Regions from separate parts of the Homo sapiens genome. Here region 2 is linked to region 1. Evidence: fine-mapped expression QTL. Tissue or cell type: whole blood. Region 1 holds a variant in brackets; the other region holds the start of a gene. All regions are shown on one strand. Distances are between the middles of the regions.

Evidence for each region. PIP is the estimated chance that this variant, and not a neighbour inherited with it, causes the effect.
Region 2: it holds the start of FAXDC2, and the variant in region 1 is fine-mapped to the expression of FAXDC2 in whole blood (TOPMed, PIP above 0.99).

What each region holds. Positions count from the first base shown.
Region 1 is chr5:154,816,010-154,821,157 of GRCh38, forward strand. LARP1 (La ribonucleoprotein 1, translational regulator) reads left to right here. Exons shown (of 19, transcript NM_033551.3): 19 at 1-1,596. FAXDC2 (fatty acid hydroxylase domain containing 2) reads right to left here. Exons shown (of 9, transcript NM_032385.5): 9 at 2,483-4,463. The coding sequence ends at 4,307. Among named protein-coding and RNA genes, the nearest start is that of MIR378H, 11 kb to the right of the region's middle. The variant C/T (reference allele first, on the strand shown) is at 2,730.
Region 2 is chr5:154,847,744-154,852,891 of GRCh38, forward strand. It overlaps FAXDC2 (fatty acid hydroxylase domain containing 2), which reads right to left and starts at 2,860. Exons shown (of 9, transcript NM_032385.5): 1 at 2,740-2,860.

The DNA of each region.
Region 1 (5,148 bases):
GACAGTATCCCAGGCTGACAAGGGCTTGCCCTTTACCTTGGGCACCTTGTTAATTTTTAGCCTGTGCCCTTCCCCACCTTTGCCCTCCCAGTGGTTGGTATGTGGGAAGCCCATCTCAGTTCCTGTGACTTCATGTCTCAAACCAAGGATGAGCGTCTGGTCTCTGCTATGATGGTGGTATCCGAGGCCTTTCCCTGCCCAGTCTGGTGCCTGCCCCACATTGTACCGGACACTGGATTCCTGGACCCCCTTCTCCTTTCCTTTCTTTCCTTCAGGTCACGCAGCCCTGTACTGTATCCAGCACCACAGAAACCTCAGTGTTTTTCCTCTGCTGGTTTGGGGCACAAGGAAGCCTTAGGGTATGGGGAAAGGCTGTTATTACCTAGAGTTTACTCCCAGGCCAGGGGGCTGCCATCTTCTTCACAGACATCCCTGAAAGGAAGCCCCTTTGGGGCAGGGAGGTGAGGACTTCATCTCAACATCGGCTGGTGGTTGGTAGGGGAGCTTTTTCTTTTCTTTCCTTTTTTTTTGTTTTTGTTTTTGTTTTTGTTTTTGGTAACATGTTAGGAGTTAATGTTGCAAAGAGTAGTTTACATCTTCACTTTCTGAAGACACTTGAATTTAGGACCGATGTATCTGTGACAAGCATGCCAGAAGTGGCAGGGGCCATCAGGGCTAACCACTTCACACCTACCATCGTCCCATGGGGATCCAAGACCTGAGATAAAGCAACAGCCTGCCCAGATCCCTCTGTTCATCCTATCCCTTCCAAGGTTGGTCCATGCCAACATAACCTCTGGGCATCAGACATCAGCAGGTCTGTGTGCCTCAGCCCTGTTAAGGGGCAGGTTTCTCTTTAGCCCTCTTCCTGCACTTGGGAGCAAAGGCACTACCAGTAGAGAAGGGCCATCCAGCCGTGCCCCAGCCTGGACCCCTGGGGCTCAGATAGAGGTGCTGAGCCCCTGTGTCAAAGTTGTTAAATGTTTTTGTTTTGTTCCATTGTAGCTCTTTTTTTTTTTTTTTCCCCTTTCCTGGTGATTGATTTTACAAAAGAAAGTAAGCTGCTTAGAAGGCCCTGGAAGGGAAGTGAGGAGGAGGGACAAGGAAGATGACTAGTTACGGAGGGTGAGGGTTGTTTTTTGCCAAAAAGCCTGGGTAGAGTGATCTGAATTATCTGGCACCCTCCTGAATGGAACCCCAGAGTACCTCCTGTGTGGAAGGGTCCCTGGATTTTCCCTAACACCCACCCTCTCCCCCTTCAGCCATGCTGATGGCAGAGAAGATAAGAACTTGGAGCCCATTTCTCACTGGAGAGGAAAACTTGTCATCTGGCTTTGCGGAGAAGGTTCCACCTTACGCTCGTAGTACATTATCTTTACTATGTGCTAGGATATCATATTTAAAAGGACAAAAAAATGTAAAATACTTGAATGAGCTTGTATTATAACATTAATATTATTGAGAGTATCTGCTTTCCAGGCTGAAGTGATTCATTCATTATTCTAGTCCTGCTTTAGTCCTTTGTAATTTGTGGTAATTATGCTTTTCTTTTTAATACAAAAAAATGTATAAAAATAAACACTTGAAAAGGCAAAATACTGGCTGGTCTTCCATCTAGGTTACTGCTATTGGGTGTGAAGGATGGGTTTCTGGTAGAGTTCCCCCAGATCCGGAGGAACCCTGCACTCAATGTGCACATGAAACCTCGGCAGGGGTTCTGCCATTGGGCTTCGAGGAGTCTGCCTAAGGCAGGGGCTTCTACAAGCCTTGAGTTCATGTCCACCCTGTGTCTTAAGTGAGACGTGACAGTCATAGCCAGTGCCACAAAACAGCAGTCCAGCATAATGCCAGGATTTCAGCGCACTTGTCAGCTTCCAGGTTTTCCATCCCCTGGCTGTGGCCTGCATTGTGTTATGAGACAGCCAAGAAGAAAAACGATGAGGCTTCTTATGGAGGGTTGCCACAACCCCTCTATGAACAGACTTTTCCACAGGGGGGTGAAGGAGGAATGATCCAGCACCATGTGGACTTACGGAATCCTGGTCAGCCCCGAACCCTGAGATGTGATGCTGGGGAGGGATGGAACAAAGAGTCCCCCATTCCCCGTATAAATTACAAAACTAAAAATGGGGCATGGCCTTATTTACGTGTTCATCTGACAACTGTCTCCCATACCTGGCTTGGGTAAATGGTTTTTCCAGAGAGTGCTTTTTCACTGTTCTTGAGGTTGGCAGGTACTTCAGTACCACCAGTGACCTCCACAGGCCAAAGGAAAGTTTAGGAGATAGTGTCCAGGGCTGATGCAGACGGATTGGTACTTTGAAAACAGAAAGATGAATTAATTGAAACTTACTTTCACAAATTATCGTTAGGAATGCTCACAGCAGCTTAATTTCACAGCCTGAGCTTCCAAATGCTATGTCTGAAGTATTAGAAGTCTTGTAGTAGACACCTCCCTTCAAAAAAAAATTATCCACTGGAATTCATGAAGACCAGTTTATTTTACATGCTTGCTTTCACATTCTTTACTGGGAATTTAAGGCCTTTTTTCAGCCTTAACTTGTATACCAACCTCAAGGATTTTGTTTGATACAGAAAAGGATAGGGCTGGGCCCTTCTGCCAAGGACTGATAACCTGCCTGCCAAAAGGAAGAGGGAATGAAAGCCTTTTGTCCTTCTAGGCCCCTTACAGTACCTCAAAATCTAAAGGCCTTAAAGGGGAAAAAAAC[C/T]GTATCTGTTCTTTCTCCTTATCTCCTACCCTTCTCTTTAAGCATATTGAAGATGGACTTTTTTCCAAATGTTTATTTGTAGGAAGAGGTGATGAGTGCAGGCCAGCAGCTGAGAACTTACAGCTTTGATGCACCAGGAACTGTATTCAAGCTGAGGGCAAAAGCCTCCTAGGGAGGGAGCCAGGTCCACCAAGGCCAGAGACAGACAGGCGAGACTGTGGAAGGCCAGGGAGATGCTGCCTGGTAAGTGCTCAGCTGGCCTACTGGGCAAGTCCTCTGGGGTTCTAGAGCTGATAGGAAGAAGGAGTCCATTTTGATAGTCCTGCCTGGAGACTTGGACCTAGCTGATACTAAGGTATTTTATAAAGCTACAGTGGATGTTTTTCTTAAGAGAACTGAAAGTTGGAAAAGGCACAAGTATATATAAGAATTTAGTAAAATGATAATGGTGGTCTTTCAAATCAAAGAGTGATCTTTAAATTGTTCTTGGGAACCACAGGGTTCCTGGCCATGTCTGGCGGCTGAGAGGAGGCCAGGATGGGGACTTCAACCCAAGCAGCTGTGGTTTTGCCTTTGATAAGGTTCCTGGTAAAAATCATCTTGAATAAATGTTGCTGAGAAACTGGTAAAGCATTCGGGGGAGAAAGGATTTTGCTCTTTGCTCTGCCATGTTTTTCCGGGCTCTTTCTTCGGGGAGAAAGAGGGCTCTAACCTTTGGTCCTCATTCAGATAGGCTAATTAGGGGTCTCGGGTGTCCCCAAAGGGCAGCAACTTTGACCCCTCCCCTTGTGGGTAAAAGGGCTTTTCACAGTTTCCCAGCAGTTGGTTTTTGGTTTCCACATAAGGCTAAAGGTGTTAAAGTTTGGTCTGCACCTCGTTGGTTTTAATCCAGGGAGGAGCTCCTGGATTTCTTTTTCTCCCCCACAGAGGGAAACCTTTTGTTTGCGGTGGGCCAGAGTTAAAACGGGGCCTTTACCACTCACTCAGAGTGTTTGGTGTGTGTATGTTTGTGTGTGTGTTGGGTGAAGTGGCGACTGGCATCTGGTATGTCATGAATTGAGACCTATAATGATTTGCCAGGGTGTCTTGGCTCTGGCCTGAGTCGGGTATGTGAAAGCCTTTTGGGGCAGGAAGGGGCAAAGTGATACCTGGCCGTCCCACCCTCTGGTCCCAGAAGGAGCTCTCGCTGGAGCCAGGCAGCCTCCAGTCCCCCTCCTTTCAGCCTTGTCATTCTCTGCATCCTGCCCAGGCCACAAAGGAGTTATCTGGGGCTGAACCCCTCTCCTTCCACAGCAGAGGACCAGGGGTCTCCTCCCTCTGACCAGCCTCCAGTCTGGGGAGCTGTGTTTTCCTTTTTCTTAAGCTAACTCCTGATCCCATTGAGGGACATCAAGGGCAGTAGTTTGAAGAAAGCCTCATCCTTGGCCCTGCTTTTCCGGGAAGCCGACCTTCCCTCTACCCTGGTGGTGCCATCATTAGGGCGTGTGGCCGAAGGAGGCAAATTGTTAGGTGCAATCAGGAAGCCGTGTCTGCATCCCATGGCTGAGGGACAGCCAGGATGACACTTAGGCTGTCTCTCACTCCATCCTCTTTGGGGAGTCTGGGATGCTCTCAGAGAGCGGGGTGAAGCCCAGCAGGAGGACATGTCTCTCGTAGGCCTTGGTCTGCTTGAACATGGTGTCAGTCCCATGGAGGTGGTCCAGCACACCCAGCACCCCATAGCACTGGTTGAACCTAGAAGAGAGAGGACGGCACTGCAGTGCCCATGCTGGAGGCTTCCGTGCAGATCCCATTTCATTTGTGCCAGCCTCACACATTTCTCAGCCCTCCTACCCCACACCTGTCACCACCATCCTGACCATCTGCATCAGAATAAGCTGGGGAGTTGCTACCAATGCATCTCCCGGGGGCCACTCCAAACCTGCAATTTGCCGTATCTGGAGTCCTCCTTTGAAAAGCTTGCTGTGTGATTGATGCCCACAGTCTGAGAATCTCTAGCAGAACTAGGCTTCTTCAGGTATGAGATCACCAGCATCAGAATCCCCTGGAACACTTAACTAAAATGCAGGTTTCCAGGCCCTGCTCCCCCAGATACCTTAGTTCAGCATATTTGGAGTGGAATTCAAGAGCCTATATTTTAAACAAGCATCTCAGGTGATTCTGGTATAGGAGGTTTGTAGACTACACTTGAAAAAGTCTGGGGCTTTCAGAGATACATGACTTCCTTGTGATTGCCTGCAGGAGTTTTATGCATATATGTACTTTTCTAAAGAGAATGTCCAGAGCTTATTCAAAGGGCCCAGAGTCCAAATAAAGGTTTAAAACCCCCAGTTGGAGGAGGACCCAATTTCAGAAGGAAAAGAGTAAGGTCATCCCAGTGTGGTTATTTTCCCAGCCATCAGACCTCTTCCCCAACTAG
Region 2 (5,148 bases), 32 kb after region 1:
GCCTCCCAAAGTGCTGGAATTACAGGCATGAGCCACTGCGCCTGGCCCAGATTTTCTTTCATATTCTTGTTTCCTGGATATTCTGCATGATTGATGAATGTTCCTTTTTTTTTTGAGACAGAGTCTTGCTCTGTCACCCAGGCTGGAGTGCAGTGGCGCGATCTTGGCTCACTGCAAGCTCCATCTCCCGGGTTCATGCCATTCTCCTGCCTCAGCCTCCCGAGTAGCTGGGACCACAGGTGCCTGCCACCACGCCTGGCTAATTTTTTGTATTTTTAGTAGAGACAGGGTTTCACCATGTTAGCCAGGATGGTCTTGATCTTCTGACCTTGTGATCCGCCCGCCTCGGCCTCCCAATGTGCTGGGATTACAGGCGTGAGCCACCATGCCCGGCCTACTGAATGTTCCTATTTTATAGATATAAATACATCACCTTTATGTGAATGTGTATTGTTTTGTAAACAACTTGTAAAATTGTTGAGACAATTTACTCTTAGAGGGGGGAGAAAAAAGACCTCATGTTCATCTGGTCTACCCCTTCCATTTTATAAGCTAAGGAGGAAGCCCTAGTTAGTAGAAATGACTTGCTCCAAACTCCACATGGTTTCTGGCAAAATCTAGGCTTCTTAACACTTTGCCTAGTGCTGTATGTATTTTGGGAATAGCATAACTTCTATTTCATAAGAAATGACACAGGGAGAGGGCAACTGACCCAAAGATTAGAACTCCCCTTACTTCAGCCTCTGCTCTCAGACTGTATGCTAGGAAAAAGCTGAGCAGTCGACCTCCAGGGCTGAGGAGACTGACCTGTAATGTAATTACACAGTTTAAAGCCTCTGGTGAAGAGGGTTTTGAGGAGCTGCTATGACTCAACATCTGTACTAATCTGAGGCTTATATAGAAGATAGAGTGGCCGATATTCATTTAAGAAGATGAAATGCGGCCAGGAGCGGTGGCTCGCATCTGTAATCCCAGCACTTTGGGAGGCCGAGGTGGGCAGATCACCTGAGGTCAGGAGTTTGAGACCAGCCTGGCCAACATGGCGAAACTCCGTCTCTACTAAAAATATAAAAATTAGCCGGGTGTGGTGGTGCACGCCTGTAATCCCAGCTGCTCTGGAGGCTGAGACAGGAGAATCGCTTGAACCTGGGAGGCGGAGGTTGCAGTGAGCCAAGATCATGCCACTGCACTCCAGCCTGGGCGCCAGAGCAAGAGTCTGTCTCAAAAAAACAAAAAAAAACAAAGATGAAATGCGGCTGGGCACGTTGGCTTATGCCTGTAATCTCATAACTTTGGGAGGCCGAGGTGGGTAGATCACCTGAGGTCAGGAGTTGGAGACCAGCCTGGCCAACATGGTGAAACCCCATCTCTACTAAAAATACGAAAATTAGCTGGGTGTGGTGGCGGGCACCTGTAATCCCAGCTACTTGGGGGGCTGAGGCAGGAGAATCTCTTGAACCCAGGAGGTGGAGGTTGCAGTGAGCTGAAATCGCGCCACTGTACTCCAGCCTGGGTGACAGAACGAGATTCCATCTCAAAAAACAAAAAAAACAAAAACAGAAGATGAAATGCATGAAAGGAAAGGTTAAAAATGATTCCCATGGGCCAGTTTTAGTAATACTCTCTTCACTCCTTTTGCTGCATGGTACTTGCACCCTTTGAGCTTACTGTTCTGCTTGATTGCATGTCCATGAGGCCGAGAATCTGCCTGTCTTGTTTACCACGAGATCCACAGAATCAAGCCCAAGCCTGGCATGTAGAAGATACTCAAGAAAGATTTGCCGAATAAATAAGAGATACACGAATCAAAAGCATTGCTTTTTGCCCTCAAAAAGTGTTCAACATTTGCTATGGAACATTTTAGCACCATTCCCTTGTGCTAATTACTTTCGTAACTAAAGTTAGAAGCTGATGCTCAGTGCATCTGTGTTTTAGCAAATTGAATTGAATCTGTATATCCCACTCAAAGAAATTTAATTGGAATTGCACATGAAACTGAAGCAACCCACAAATCAGCATCTTGTCTTGCTTGCCTTAAGCCCCAGAAGGTCCTGAAAGCCACTGTTCTATTGTTCATCTCCACCTACACACTTTACTGTATGCCCTTTACTCAATAACCTTCGTGGAGTGTTTCCATAGGTACTATCAAGCCACTAACGATTTCACAACTGGAGCCACTGTTGGTAAATCCAAGTATGTTGCATCAAAACAGTTTCAACCTACTTGTCTAGCTCATAGCCCACACATCTATCCAGAGACTTTAAAACTGTTGTATTTTGCCCCATACCTTCCTGGTGATGGCAGAGTAGAGATGAGAAGCAATTAGGCAGCAGTTGCTTCCCAACAGTCTCTTCCAGTTTGTTCTGCCTCTCATTTGAGTTCTGAATTAGGAGTTGCTCCTTTACAAATGGTTTTAAAGTCAAACAATTACTTGTCCATTACAATCACCTGTCAATTGCTAGAAAAATTAGACTACTGAGGAGGTAGATGGTACAAACACAGGCAGAGGATACAGACATTAGTAAGAGACAAGGAGGCGACTGCACTACAGCAATGTCCTAGGACAAATTCTAACCCTGCCATCTAACCCTGTTTAGAGGCAAATCTAACCCTGCCATAAGTAGAGAGGACAGGGTGGTGGCAGAGGTGGGAAGAGTGTTGTTTTGCCCTTACTTTAAGTGAACCTGGACATGTCCTGACCTTTGCAAACACCACCCCTCCCCCGTAGTTCCCACTTACCTCTGCAGTGGGCTGTGTCCAAGCTGCTGAGGTCCTTGCACAGGTCAAATCTAAGTTCTCTTCCCTTTCAGCCCCCGCTTTGGTGGCTGTTGCTGCTGCGGCTCTGCTGCAGGCTAACCTTGTTTTTGCTCGGGTGGGAGGCTGGCCATGGTGATCTCATTACAGAGCTGCGTACTGGCTCGGACCAGGCACGTGATGAAAAAAGTTTGGGTCTGTGTGGGCTGGAAACAAAACACCCTTCTTTCCAGAGGGCATGTCCTTAAAGCGGAAAGGGAATCTAAGCTCAAGCAGGAACTTGAAAAACGTGCATTTGGCCAAACTCTGGGCTTCCCTCCCCCTGCCCCCTTTTTTTCTTTTAAAAAATTTTCTCCATCATCTGCAACTTAAGAAAATGTCGCTGTCCCATAGGAGGAGGCAGATTCAAGAAAAGATGTGGGTGTCAGATAATGGCAGGTAGTACAAGTTGATAAAAAGGTGACAGAGACCAGAGGATCTCATTTTCTTTTTTTTCATTGCTTCTTTTCCTGTGGAGGGCAGGCAAGGGAGGAGAGATGCATCAGCTATTTCTAGTGAGTCTAGATGCAGGAAAGGCATGCCTGTGGAGGGTAAATTTGCACTGTGATTGAAATAGGGGAACTTAGGATACAGGACCCATGACATGAAGTGAGGAGCACTTTGGAAAAAGAGCTGCTTTTAAATTTCTGAAAACTTTTTAAATAAGCAAATGTGCAAATGATATAAAATACAATAGGGTCAAAAGAATGTACAATGAAAAGTCTTTTTTTAATTTCTCCTCAGTCCCCTTTTTTTCCTCCCAAGAGACAACCTCTGTGACCAGATTTTTGTATATCCTTCCAGAGCTTACCTCTGTAAATAGAAACATGTGTAGGCCTTGTGCTTCTCCTTTAGCAACAGCACCATAGTATGTTTGTTGTGCACCTTGCTTTTTCCACTTAACAATCAAACATGGAGATTGGCTAGGCATGGTGGTGCTCACCTGTAGTCCCAACTATTTGGGAGGCTGAGGTTGGAGGATCACTTGAGCCCAGGTATTTGAGACCAGCCTGGGCAGCACAGGAAGACTCCTTTCTAAAATAAACAAAACTCAGAAACTTGGCTGGGCACGGCGGCTCACATGTATAATCTCAGCACTTTGGAAGACCAAGACGGGAGGATCACTTGAGGCCAGGAGTTCAAGACCAGCCTGGGCAATGTAGCAAAACCCCATTTCTACTACATATACAAAAAATTAGTAGAGCTTACTGGCACATGTCTGTTATCCCAGCTACTGGGGAGGCTGAGGTGGGAGGATGGCTTGAGCCCAGGAGTTGGAGGCTGCAGTGAGCTATGATTGTGCCCTGCACTCCAACCTGAGTGACAGAGTGGGACCCTGTCTCTAAAAAACAAAACAAAATAAAAAATGCCGGGTGCAGTGGCTCATGCCTGTAATCTCAGCAATCTTTGGAAGGCTGAGGCAGGAGGATTTCTTTTTTTTATTTTTTGAGATGGAGTCTTGCTCTGTCACCCAGGCTGGAGTGCAATGGCATGATCACAGCTAACTGCAACCTCCGCCTCCTGGGTTCAAGCGATTCTTCTGCCTCAGCCTCCCGAGTAGCTGGGACTACAGGTGTGCGCTGCCAGGCCCGGCTAATTTTTGTATTTTTTTTTTTTAGTAGAGATGAGGTTTCACCATATTGGCCAGGCTGGTCTTAAACTCCTGACCTCATAATCTGCCCACCTCAGCCTCCCAAAGTGCTGGGATTACAGGCATGAGCCACCACCGTGCCTGGCCTGGCAGGAGAATTTCTTAAGCCCAGGAGTTAGAGACCAGCCTGGGCAACATAATGAGGCCCTGTCTCTAAAATAAATAAAACTGTCAACAACAAAACATGGAGACTGCTCCATATAGTACCCTTAAGAGCTGCCATGTTCTGTTTAATGGCTGCCTCCCGTCCCATTGTATAGATGTGTCATACTTTATTTGGCCAATAAAGGACCATGTCTTCCTCATTTTCCTTGCCTAATTCGTTGCACAAAGCAAGGGCTCAGTAAACATTCAATGCTTGCTCACAAATTAATTACATTTTGTACAACTTGTTCATGTTTTTCCTCATCTCTCCTTTCAGAGATACTAATTTTTTTCAATATTCCAGATATTGCAGAATGTCTATATTTTCCAGCTGACCAAGTCTATCTTGTGCACTGAACAAACCTGTGCTACCAGACTTCCAAGACTCACTTTAGTTTGGCTCCTCTCAGATGATATTATTTCCTATTCCCTCCTACTTTCTATTTTTTAATTTTTTTATTTTTATTTTTGAGATGGAGTCTCATTCTGTTGCCCAGGCTAGAGTGTAGTAGCACAATCTCGGCTCACTGCAACCTCCGCCTCCTGGGTTTAAGCGATTC